Regions from separate parts of the Homo sapiens genome. Here region 1 is linked to region 2. The links come from fine-mapping of genetic effects on gene expression. A gene starts in region 2. The other region holds a variant in brackets. All regions are shown on one strand. Distances are between the middles of the regions.

What was found. PIP is the estimated chance that this variant, and not a neighbour inherited with it, causes the effect.
Region 1: its variant is the best candidate, but not a certain one, in a credible set for the expression of ROCK2 in neutrophils (BLUEPRINT, PIP 0.72).

What each region holds. Positions count from the first base shown.
Region 1 is chr2:11,269,498-11,274,874 of GRCh38, forward strand. The region is part of intron 3 of ROCK2 (Rho associated coiled-coil containing protein kinase 2); the gene reads right to left. Among named protein-coding and RNA genes, the nearest start is that of ROCK2, 72 kb to the right of the region's middle. The variant A/G (reference allele first, on the strand shown) is at 2,281.
Region 2 is chr2:11,342,519-11,347,895 of GRCh38, forward strand. ROCK2 (Rho associated coiled-coil containing protein kinase 2) reads right to left here and starts at 2,118. Exons shown (of 33, transcript NM_004850.5): 1 at 1,478-2,118. The coding sequence starts at 1,618. LOC124907733 (a long non-coding RNA gene) reads left to right here and starts at 2,994. Exons shown (of 2, transcript XR_007086216.1): 1 at 2,994-3,171. RefSeq lists silencers at 1,433-2,162, 2,303-2,372, 2,443-2,602.

The sequences.
Region 1 (5,377 bases), 73 kb before region 2:
AAGACTCCATCTCAAAAAAAAAAAAAAAATCTTTTTTGAATGGATCGGCCATATTGGCCATCAGGTCTTTTTCAAGGACGGTTTCTTTTGATTTGTTTTTGTTTTCTTTGAATGGCCTATATACATTTTCCTGTTTCTTCGGATATAAGACATATTCTGCCGGTGTGATTGTTGTCCAGGTAACGAAAGAGATTCCTCTTGCTTGTTACTCCCCTCTCTTTTCAGAATCCTCTCTCTCCCCATCATTTGTGTTTGTGTGCTTTTTCATTAAGAGATGGGGTCTTGCTCTGTCACCCAGGCTGGAGTAAAGTGGTATGATCATGGCTCACAGGAGCCTTGACCTCCCAGGCTCAAGCAATCCTGCCACTTCAGCCTCCAGAGTAGCTGGGACTACAGGCACATGCCACCACATATGGCTAATTATTTTTAATTTTCTCGTAGAGATGGGGTCTCACTATGTTGCCCAGGCCGGTCTCAAACTCCTGGCCTCAAGCAATCCTTCCACCTTGGCCTCCCAAAGTGCCAGGATTACACGTATGAGCTACTGCACCCAGCCACCCCATCACTTTTGAAGGATAATTTCCTAAAGTGCAGAATTCTAGATTGGTAATTTTGCTTTCTTTTTTATTCGCAATTTTGCTTTCTTTTTTATTCTCAATACTTTAAAAATTTTATTCCACTCTTTTTGCTTGCATGGTTTCTGAGGAGAAGTCAGATAAAATTCTTATCTTTGTTCCTGTATAGGTAAAGTGTGGTTTGTTAGGCTTTTTCTTCTCTTGGCTTTCAGGCTTTTTCTTATGCTTGGTTTTCTATAGTTTGAAAATGATATTCCTAAATCTAACGTTTAAGACATTTATTCTGCTTTCTGTTCTTTGGGCTTTCTGGATCTGTGGTTTGGTGTCTGACATTAATTTGGGTAAAATTTTCACTATTATTTCAAATGTTTCTTCTGTTGTTTTTTTCTTCTTCTTGTATTCCCATTACACATATTTTACACCTTTTCTAGTGGTTCCATGGTTCTGTGATAATTCTGTTCTGATGTTTTCAGTCTTCCCTCTACATGCTTTCAGTTTTGGGTGTACCTATTGATATATCCTGAAACTTAGAGATATTTTATCAACCTTGTTCAGTCTAGCAATAAGTCTATCAAAGGCACTTTTCATTTCTGTTAAAAGTGTTTTTGATCTCTAGAATTTATTTTCACTTGTTCCTTAGGATTTCTATCTCTCTACTCACATCACCACTCTATTCATGCATGCTATTTTATCCATTAGCATATTAATCAAAGTTCTTTTAAATTGCTGGTTTGATAATTTTAGTGTTCCTACCATGTTTGCTTCTAATGCTTACTGTCTCTTCAAAATCTTTTTTCCTGCCTTTTAGTATGCTTTGTAATTTTTCCTTGATAGCGGGACATGATGCATTGAGTAAAAGGAACTTCTGTAAATAGGTCTTTAGTAATATAAGGTGTAGAGTGAGGCAATGTTTCCTATAGTTTTAGGTTCTACAATCTTGTGGGCAGTGTTCTATAGTCTTATGATTAGGTCTCAGCGAATCCTTATGCCTCTATACTGTGAACTTTAAATGTGCTTCTGAGTCATAGGATGGCTAGTGTGGGCTGGAGTTGTGTATTAACCTTCCCCAAGTTCCATTATGCTCTGGTTACATCTGGAGGGCAGGCCTTGTTAAGAAGCAAATGCTGTGGCATATTTCAAAATGTTCCTTTCCCTTTAATCTTCTTGGAAGCATGAGGAGATTTTTCTCCAATATTCACTGTGAGACTCTGGTTGAGCTCTTGGATATAAAATCTGTAAAGGTGTGGGGGCTCACCTATAACTGGGTCCCCTGCAAGTTTTTAATTGTCTGACTTGACCACCACTTAGCCCCCAGCAATTTGTCAGTTACAGCTCAGGTTTTCCTACCTCAGCACTGGTTCTCGTGGCAATTTCTGCTTATGAATCCTGGATCTTATAGCCATGGCTATTTGTTTGTCTCTCTAGTTTGGGGTCAGTGGTTTGTTTGGTGTCCTCACCTGTCTTTTGGATCCCGGAAGCACTGTTGGTTTTTCAGTCTCTTCAGCATTTTATTTGTTGTTAGGATGGATGGTGATTTCCAAGCTCCTTACTTGTGCAACCAGAAACCTGTTGCCCTGTTTTAAAGGGCATATTGATAGGATATACTCAAGGGGTATGGTGCTCTGGGAACTTGAAACAATGCCATCTGAGGTTGAAAGGACTGAAAGGTTCGGGGCTGGGCGCGGTGGCTCACGCCTGTAATCCC[A/G]GCACTTTGGGAGGCAGAGGCGGGCGGATCACAAGGTCAGGAGATCGAGACCATCCTGGCTAACACGGTGAAACCCCGTCTCTACTAAAAAAATTAGCCGGGCGTGGTGGCGGGCACCTGTAGTCCCAGCTACTCGGGAGGCTGAGGCAGGAGAATGGCGTGAACCCGACAGGCGGAGCTTGCAGTGAGCAGAGATCACACCACTGCACTCCAGCCTGGGAGACAGAACGAGACTCCATCTCAAAAAAAAAAAAAAAAAGTAGAATTGAAAGGTTCATTTGGAGCAGATCTGAGGAAAGGACTGCCTTGGAAAGTGACAAAGCTTTGTTATTGTTTGACTGGGTTTTTTGGTTGTTGTGTTTTCCCTAAACTGACAGGAAAGTTAAGACATTAACAGATAAACAAAAATTAAGGGAGCTTGTTACCAGTAGACCTGACCTGCAAGAAATGGTCAATGAAGTCCTACAGGGTGAAATGAAAACACACTGTTTAAACAGTAAGTTGAAGTCATGTGAAGAAATAAAAATCTCAATAAAGGTAAATACACACACAATTATAAAGTCCAGTATTACTGTAATAATGGATTATAATTGCACTTTTTGCTTTCTACATGATTTAAAAGGCCAATACATATTTTTAAATTATTAATCTAAAAGCTAGTATTATTGAAACTTTGTTTCATAAACCCATTTTGTTCTATATAAAAAATTGATGCATTTAAAGTGATTAGTTTATGGTTTGGGGCACATAATGAATAAGGAGGTAATTCTGTGACAGCAACTGGAAAGGGTGAGGGCAGAGCTGTTAAAGAAGCAGAGCTGGCCGGCTGCAGTGGTTCACGCCTATAACCCTAGCACTTTGGGAGGCCGAGGCAGGTGGATCATTTGAGGTCAGGAGTTTGAGACCAGCCTTGCCAACATGGTCTCCACTAAAAATACCAAAATTAGCCAGGCACGGTGATGGGCACCTGTAACCCCAGCTACTCGGGAGGCTGAGGCAGGGAAATCACTTGAACACGGGAGACAGAGGTTACAGTGAGCCAAGATGGTGCCACTGCACTCCAGCCTGGGCGACAGAGCAAGACTCTGTCTCAAAAAAAAAAAAAAAAAAGAGCAAGAGTTACTGTATATTCTTGAAGCTAAGCTGGTATAAATTGACATCTGAATTTTTATAAGTTTAGGATGTTAAATGTAATGCCTATGGTATCTACAAAGAAAACAGAATACATACTAAACAAATTGAGAAAGAATGTAAACATACCACTATAAGAAAATGAACTGAACACAAAAGCCAAGAGAAATGCAGGAAATAAGGGTCAAAAAAAAAAAAAAAAAAAAAGCTTTACAACATATAGAAAACAAATAGCAAAATAACAGAAATAAATTCTTCTTCCCAGTAATGACATTCAATGTAAGTGAGTTAAACTCTCCAATCAAAAGACAGAGATTGGCAGAATGAATTAAAAAAAAGATCCATCTATGCATTGTCCATAAGATAATCACTTTAGATCCAAAGACACAAACTGATTGATAGTGGAAGGATGGAAATAGTAACCAAAAGAGAGCAGAAGTGGCTATACTAATATCAGACCAAATACACTTTAAATCAATAAAGGTTACAGGAAACAAAAAAAAACATTATATCTTAATAAAAGTTTCAACACAGTAAGAAGACACAGCAATTACAAACATTTATAGACCTAGTAACAGACCATCAAAATATATGATGCAAAAACAGAACTGAGGGAGAAATAGACAGCTCTATAATAATAGTTGGAGACTTTCATTCTCTATTATCACTTAATAGAATGGAGTATGGAAATACAGTAAAGAAACAGAGGACTTAACACAATAAACTAACTAGATCTTAGGGATATATACAGAACACATAATAACATATATAATATTCTCAAGTGCACATGGGACATTTTCCAAAACAGATCATATGTCAGGCCACAGACTAAGTCTCAAAAGATTTAAAAAGATAGACATACAAAGTATATTTTCCAACCACAATGGGATGAAGTCAGAAATCGATAAAAGACAGGAGGCTGAGGCAGGAGAATGGCGTGAACCCGGGAGGTGGAGCTGGCAGTGAGCCGAGGTTGCGCCACTGCACTCTAACCTGGGTGACAGAGCAAGACTCCATCTCAAAAAAAAAAAAAAAGACTTCGATAAAATAACTACAATGAGAAAATCCACAAAAACATGGAAATTAAACAACACACAAATAACCAACGAATCATATAAGAAATCAGAAGGGAAATTAGGAAATACTCCAGAGACAAATGAAAACAACACAACAAAAAACTTAACGGAATACAGCAAAAGTAGTATATGGGAGAAATTTATAGCTATAAATGCTTACATTAAAAAAACGAGAATGATCTGAAATTAAAAACGAAACTTTACAATTTAAGAAACTAGAAAGAGAAAAACAAACTAAACCCAAAGCCATCAGAAGCAAGGAAATAATAAAGATTAGAGCAAAGATAAAACAGAGAACACAACAACAACAACAACAACAACAAAATCAATGAAACCAAAAGTTGGTTCTTTGAAACAATCCAAAAGAGTCACAAACCTCTGGCTAGATGGACTAATTAAAAAAACAGAGAATGCTCAAATTATTAAAATCAGAAATAAAAGTGGGGACATTACTACCCACTTTACGAAAATTAAAATGATTAAGAGAGTACTCTGACCAATTCTATGTTAACAAATAGAATAACTTAGATAAAACAGACAAATTCCTAGAAACACAAAATCTACCAAGACTAACTCACACAAAAAACCAGAAAATATAAATAGACCTACAATTAGTAAAGAGATTGATTCAGTAACCAAAACTTTCCTGACATAGAAAAGCTCTTTACCTAATGGCTTCACTGGTGAGTTCTACCAAATATTTCAATAACATCAATCATTCTCATACTTCTCTAGAAAACTGAAGAGGAAGGAACACCTCCTAACTCATTCTATGAGGCCAGCATTACCCTGATACCAAGGACAGATAAAGACATCACGGTAGTCCCCTCTTATCCTCAGGAAATACATTCCAAGACCCCAGTGGTTACCTGAAACCATGGAGAGTACTG
Region 2 (5,377 bases):
TAGCATGAACCTGATGAATACTTGAGATTTGCTGTACTATTTTTAACTAAACTTTCTGGCCTTAGGTCAAAGTTTTGCTAGCAAAATACCAAAGTGAAAATGCTGGGAGTGCAGCCCAGAGTCTCCGCTTTAGCCTAGGAAAAGCTATGCCATCCATGCAAGCAATCTTACTCCCGATTAAAGACTTTCAAAGACTGCTCCCATTAAAACATAGGAACAACACATTAACCCGAAAAACAGTAAAACATCAAACACATGTGACACAATATAGCACATCATTCATTACTTTCTGTACACTGTGCAGAAAGACACTATATAGCTAAAGTCAGTTCCTGCATTTTGACCAAACAGGACTGAGTCACTCTGCAAACGATGCCTGAAACCTCAAAGGATAACCAACCGCCTCTGACCAAAAGCCAGTCCGTCCGTCCCTGGAAAGGGAGGAGGCAGTTTTTCTCATCATACAGTAAGGTTTATTCCAGGAGGGAATAGAACTAAACATCTGCATTCCAGCACAGAATGTCTAACGGATCTAAGGACCTCCCACCCTAGTTCTAGTCTTCCAGAGTCAATTTAATACACAGAGTATCGTTTTCACCTTTCTTCCCCTCCCCAGGGTAAAAGTCCACACCCCCTTTTCCCATAAATGCATCTACACTGCACACTACTCAAATTGCGAAATACAATCATCTATCCTAACAAAAATAAGAAATAAGCCAGCATTCTACGGTGCATTTCTATTTTGTAAAACATGCTCCTTTCTTAACCAAGAGCCAATTAGCAGCCTTTACGGTGCTATTAATCTGGATTTCAAAGGTCGTTATAGGAAAGAGACGCAATGAAGAGGACAGATTTATTCCACTCCACAATTCAGACTGATTTTTTGGCTCTGGCGCAATAATCTCAGGGAATTAAATTTACAGCAATTAAAATGCACTAAATAGCAAGTATGGAATGCTCAAACGCAAGTGAAAACAGCAAAACTTTAGCTGTGTGTTCCAAGATTTCAGACTAAAAGGAGAGAGTGAGGGCGGCTCTTTGTCATGTACCCCAGTGAGTACTCGCAACAGGGACAGCATCAGGTTTCTTTCTCCCTCGCTCGCACCAAGTCCCCACGTAGCATGACACTTTCAAATCAGCTAACCTGGTGTATGAAGCATGGCCAGTCCTCCACCCACCTCCCCAGAGTGGGCAGGCGGAAGGAGAAGAGGGGTGTTTTCCTCCCAGTGCTGCAAGAAAGGAGCAGCCGGGGATGACACTGGCTCCAGCAGGAGGTAGAGGGAGGAATCAAAGGCGGGTCACTACTCTTGGAACTCGGTGACAGAATCGTTTGGTCTCCGGCCCCGGCTGCCGGAAGCAGGGCGGGGTGGGGCAAGACCTCCCCCTCCCCACGGGCGGACGGGCACGGAGGGCTGGGCGGAGAGGGGATCTGAGGTGTGAGCTGCAACGAGCAAGCTCCCAGGCCCCGGCCACCTACCAGCAAGCTCTCCACGTTGATGGGGGAGCGAGGGTCTCGGATCAGCGCCTCCAGCTTCCTCTGGCGGCTCGCGCCTGCCCCGTCCCCCGGCGCGGTCTCGGGGGCGCCGGGCATTTTCCCCGTCGGCGGGGGCCGGCTCATGCCGCCACCGCTGGACCCGCACTCAGGCTCCTCGCGCTCAGGTCCCGCAGCCTCGGGGCCTAGCACCGCCCCCGAACCACCAGCTCCGGCCGGGACTCCACCCGGGCCCACCGCCTGCCTCTAGCTCCGGCTTCGGGTCTCCAAGGCGGTCCCCCGCCTGGGGGCTGCTCCCAGGGGCCCGCCCGGCCCAGCCCGGCCCAGCCCGGCCCGGCCCTGCCGGGAGCGGCGGGGAACAGACGGCGTCCCCGCCCCTCAGTCAGATTCGCGCCGCCGGTCCGCTGGTCCTCAGCGAGTGCCCGCAGGAGTCCTCGGGCGGGAGCAGGGAAGTGGCGCCGCCACCGCCGCGGCCCGGACCGCCCCGCCCTCTGGGGCCCCGGGAGGCTGAAGCCCAGGCCTGGGCCACTACGGCCGCCGCCGGCCCGCTGCCATGGTCGCCGCCGGCCGCCTTGCAGTCCCTCAGCCAGCTCCCGGCGCACACACTCCCGCGCGGCCGCCCGTCTCCGGCCGCGCGCCGCCGCTACCCACAAGCCCCTCCGCCCGCAGCCGCCGGCGCGCGTCCCCGCCGGCCCTGCGCGCGCTCCGCCCCGCCCCGCCCCGCGCACCGCGCTTCCTCCCTTTCTTTCCCTTCCTGCGTCTGTCCCGCTCCGCTTTCTCCTCTGCGCCCCTTCCTCGCCCGCCCTCGCCTCCTCCCCCTGGCGAGGTTCTCTGAGGCGAATAGCCGGGCGCGCGGTCACGGCCGAGCTCCTGCTGGGGGAGGGGAGACGCACCCAGGCCGGGTCCTTCCGCGCGCCCCCTGCCCCTCCCGCCGGACCCCGCGGACTACCCCGCGGCCCCGAGGCGGAACCCCAGACGCCGGGCCCAGCGCACCGTGCGCTGGGGGGGAGCCCGGCCGCGCCCCCCGCCGCGGCCCCCGCTGACTCAGCGCGCAGCTATGCGGGCCTCGCCTCACCCGCGCCCAAATAATAGCGACCGAGCTCGGCGCCCGCGAGGGGCCGCAGGGCCGGGGGTTTCGAGGCGAGCCTGAGAGGGGGCCCTGGGTGTCTGGGATTCCGAATTAGCGGAGGCGGGTGGAATCCTAGTCCTGGGGCAGGAGGGCCTGGGATCCTGAAAGCGTTTCTGCCCGGCTTAGACACTAACCACTTCAAGAGAACGGGAGAGCACCGGAAAAAGGCTTTCCAGCCGCAGGCCTTCGCGGGGTCTTCTCCTTTTGGGGGGCGGAAGAGGGGTGGTTATCGGGACCGTTCCGCCGCATTCCTGCCCTCTCGGCGGCCGGTGCCATCGCTTAGATCCGCCCAGGGCGCAATCCGAAAATTATGTGCCAAGAGCTATAAAACCGTTCATAGAGCCCCTTTGACCCAGTAAACCCATTTAAGGAAGTACATTTCCAAGGAAATGATCCAAAGGGCGAAGAAGGGGGAGAACTTGCAGAAAGATGTTAACAGCAGGGCTATTCACAATGTTCGTGATGACCAAAACCTGGGAATGGGCCCAGTTGTCCAACAATTGAGTAACCCAAACAGGCGCCTTCACATTAACAGCAAGAATCCTGGCAGGTATGCAGACTGTGTCAAACATGAAATTTTGGCAAGTACATGAGAAGGTATATTAGAAATAAATGAAACAAAAAAAATCGTTTGTACACACTAAAACTATGTAAAATGAGCAGCTATAAGAACCAGAGAATACAGTACTTCTTAAATAAATGGGATTTTTTTCTGTAAAGATACTTAAGAACAAATTAAATTTCAAAAAATGGAAAAACCACTCCGAAAAGCAACAATCTGATATCCATTAAGTAATAAGAATGTTAAGAACTGTCTCCCTGGCATGTCAGAGATAAACCCGAAGATAGGGTGAAGCCCCAGCCCTGTAAAAGTTGCATTTTGATCCAAACCATTGGATTAGTTGGAGCCTCTTCTTTGGTTTTAGGTTAGTTAAAACCACCCCTAGCTGGACTCATGCAGGAAGAGGCCCCGATGATCCATCCAATGCAGCTTTTCCCTTTCAGATAGTAACACTGACTTCACATCCAGAGAGTCCTTTAAGTCTGTGTATTGAGCTACTCATTCAGACCTCCACAGAGGCCACCAGGAGAACAGAGGGAGCTAGACACTCCCACTTATGCATTGGAGCAAAATAATGAGATAATCTATGATTATGGATTATTTTTCTGATGACAAAATAATATGCAAGGCAAAAGGAGCACTCTGTCTAGCGGGGCGTGGTGGCCTGTGCCTGTAGTCCCAGCTCCCCCTGAGGCTGAGTTGGAGGCCTCCTCCATTGAGCCCAGGAGGCCAAGGCTGCAGTGAGCTGTGATCACACCGCTGCACTCCAGCCTGGGCAACAGAGTGAGATTGTCTCAAAAAAAAAAAAAAAAAAACACTGTGGTTCTCAGTTTCCAAATTAATTTTGACTGGTTGTATATTTGTATGTAGCTTGGTGGAATAACAGGAAGCCATGGTCCAAATACCGAACATGAAAACCTTATTTTAAGAGTAGTGATCAACAAGATATATATCCTGGGCATGTTCTACATATACTTATTTATATAGACCAGAAAAAGCCATGGTACAGAAGATTTTTACCCAAGACCTATCCCATTGTCTACCTGGAAGAAGAGAAAATGAATCTGTTGATATGAGTTAAACCTTTTTGCAGGATGGGGTAAGGGTAAGGAGGAGGTTAGTACAACAATTCTTGTTTTCAAAAGTAATGCACAAATGCATTCTTGTAAAAGTTCAAACGAACCAGAAATATATGGAACATAATCTAAAATTTACTGTTCTGACTATATTTCCACATACATTCTTATATCACTCAAGGCCTTTGGCCATTCTCATACATATGTATTATAGATACATGTTACCTTTTCCCCACAGACATGAAATTATACCATATCATGGTGTTTGGCAACTTGGTTTTTTCCCTTCATTACTAATATGTCCTAGAGGCGTGTCCATGTCTATAGGCAGAGATCTGCTTCATTCCGCTTACCTGCTGTCCTCTACTCCCCAGTTTGGATGTGCCACACTGTAATTATTCTCTATTCGAGAGCATAGTGGTTAAGAAACAATTGCCAAAATCCTGCCCCAAACACACACTTGCCATGTGACCCTGAGCAAGTTACCTAACTCCTCTGTGTCTCGGGGTCCTCACAATATTTGTTATAAAGTGCTTAGAAATGTGCTGGCCCTCAATCAATGCTAGATATTATTAATATTTTCTCACTGTTAAAATGATCCATTGACATCCTCGTATCCTCATATTTGAATAGTATAGATTCCTAAAAGTGGAATTGTCATAACAAAGGGTAGGCATACTGTAAATACAGATGCTGCCAACCTGTTATTTATTTATTTATTGGAGGCAGGTTTACATTCTGTCCTTCAGGCTGGAGTGCAGTGGCACGAGAGATCTTGGCTCACTGCAACCTCCACCTCTAGGGCTCCAGCAGTCCTCCCACTTCAGCCTCCTGAGTAGCTGGAACTGCAAGCACACAACACCATGCCTGGCTAATTTTTGTATTTTTTGTAGAGACAGGATTTTGCCTTGTTGCCCAGGCTGTTCTCTAAGTCCTGAGCTCAAGCGATCCACTCACCTCAGCCTCCCAAAGTGCTGGGATTACAGGGGTGAGTCACAGAGCCGGGCCTCAACCTGGCCTTTAAAAAGACGCTACCCGTTTACATTCTCAGCGTGAGTAGAAGAAACTGCCCATGTCCCTTCACCTTTCCCAGTATTCAATATTATATTTTTAATTGT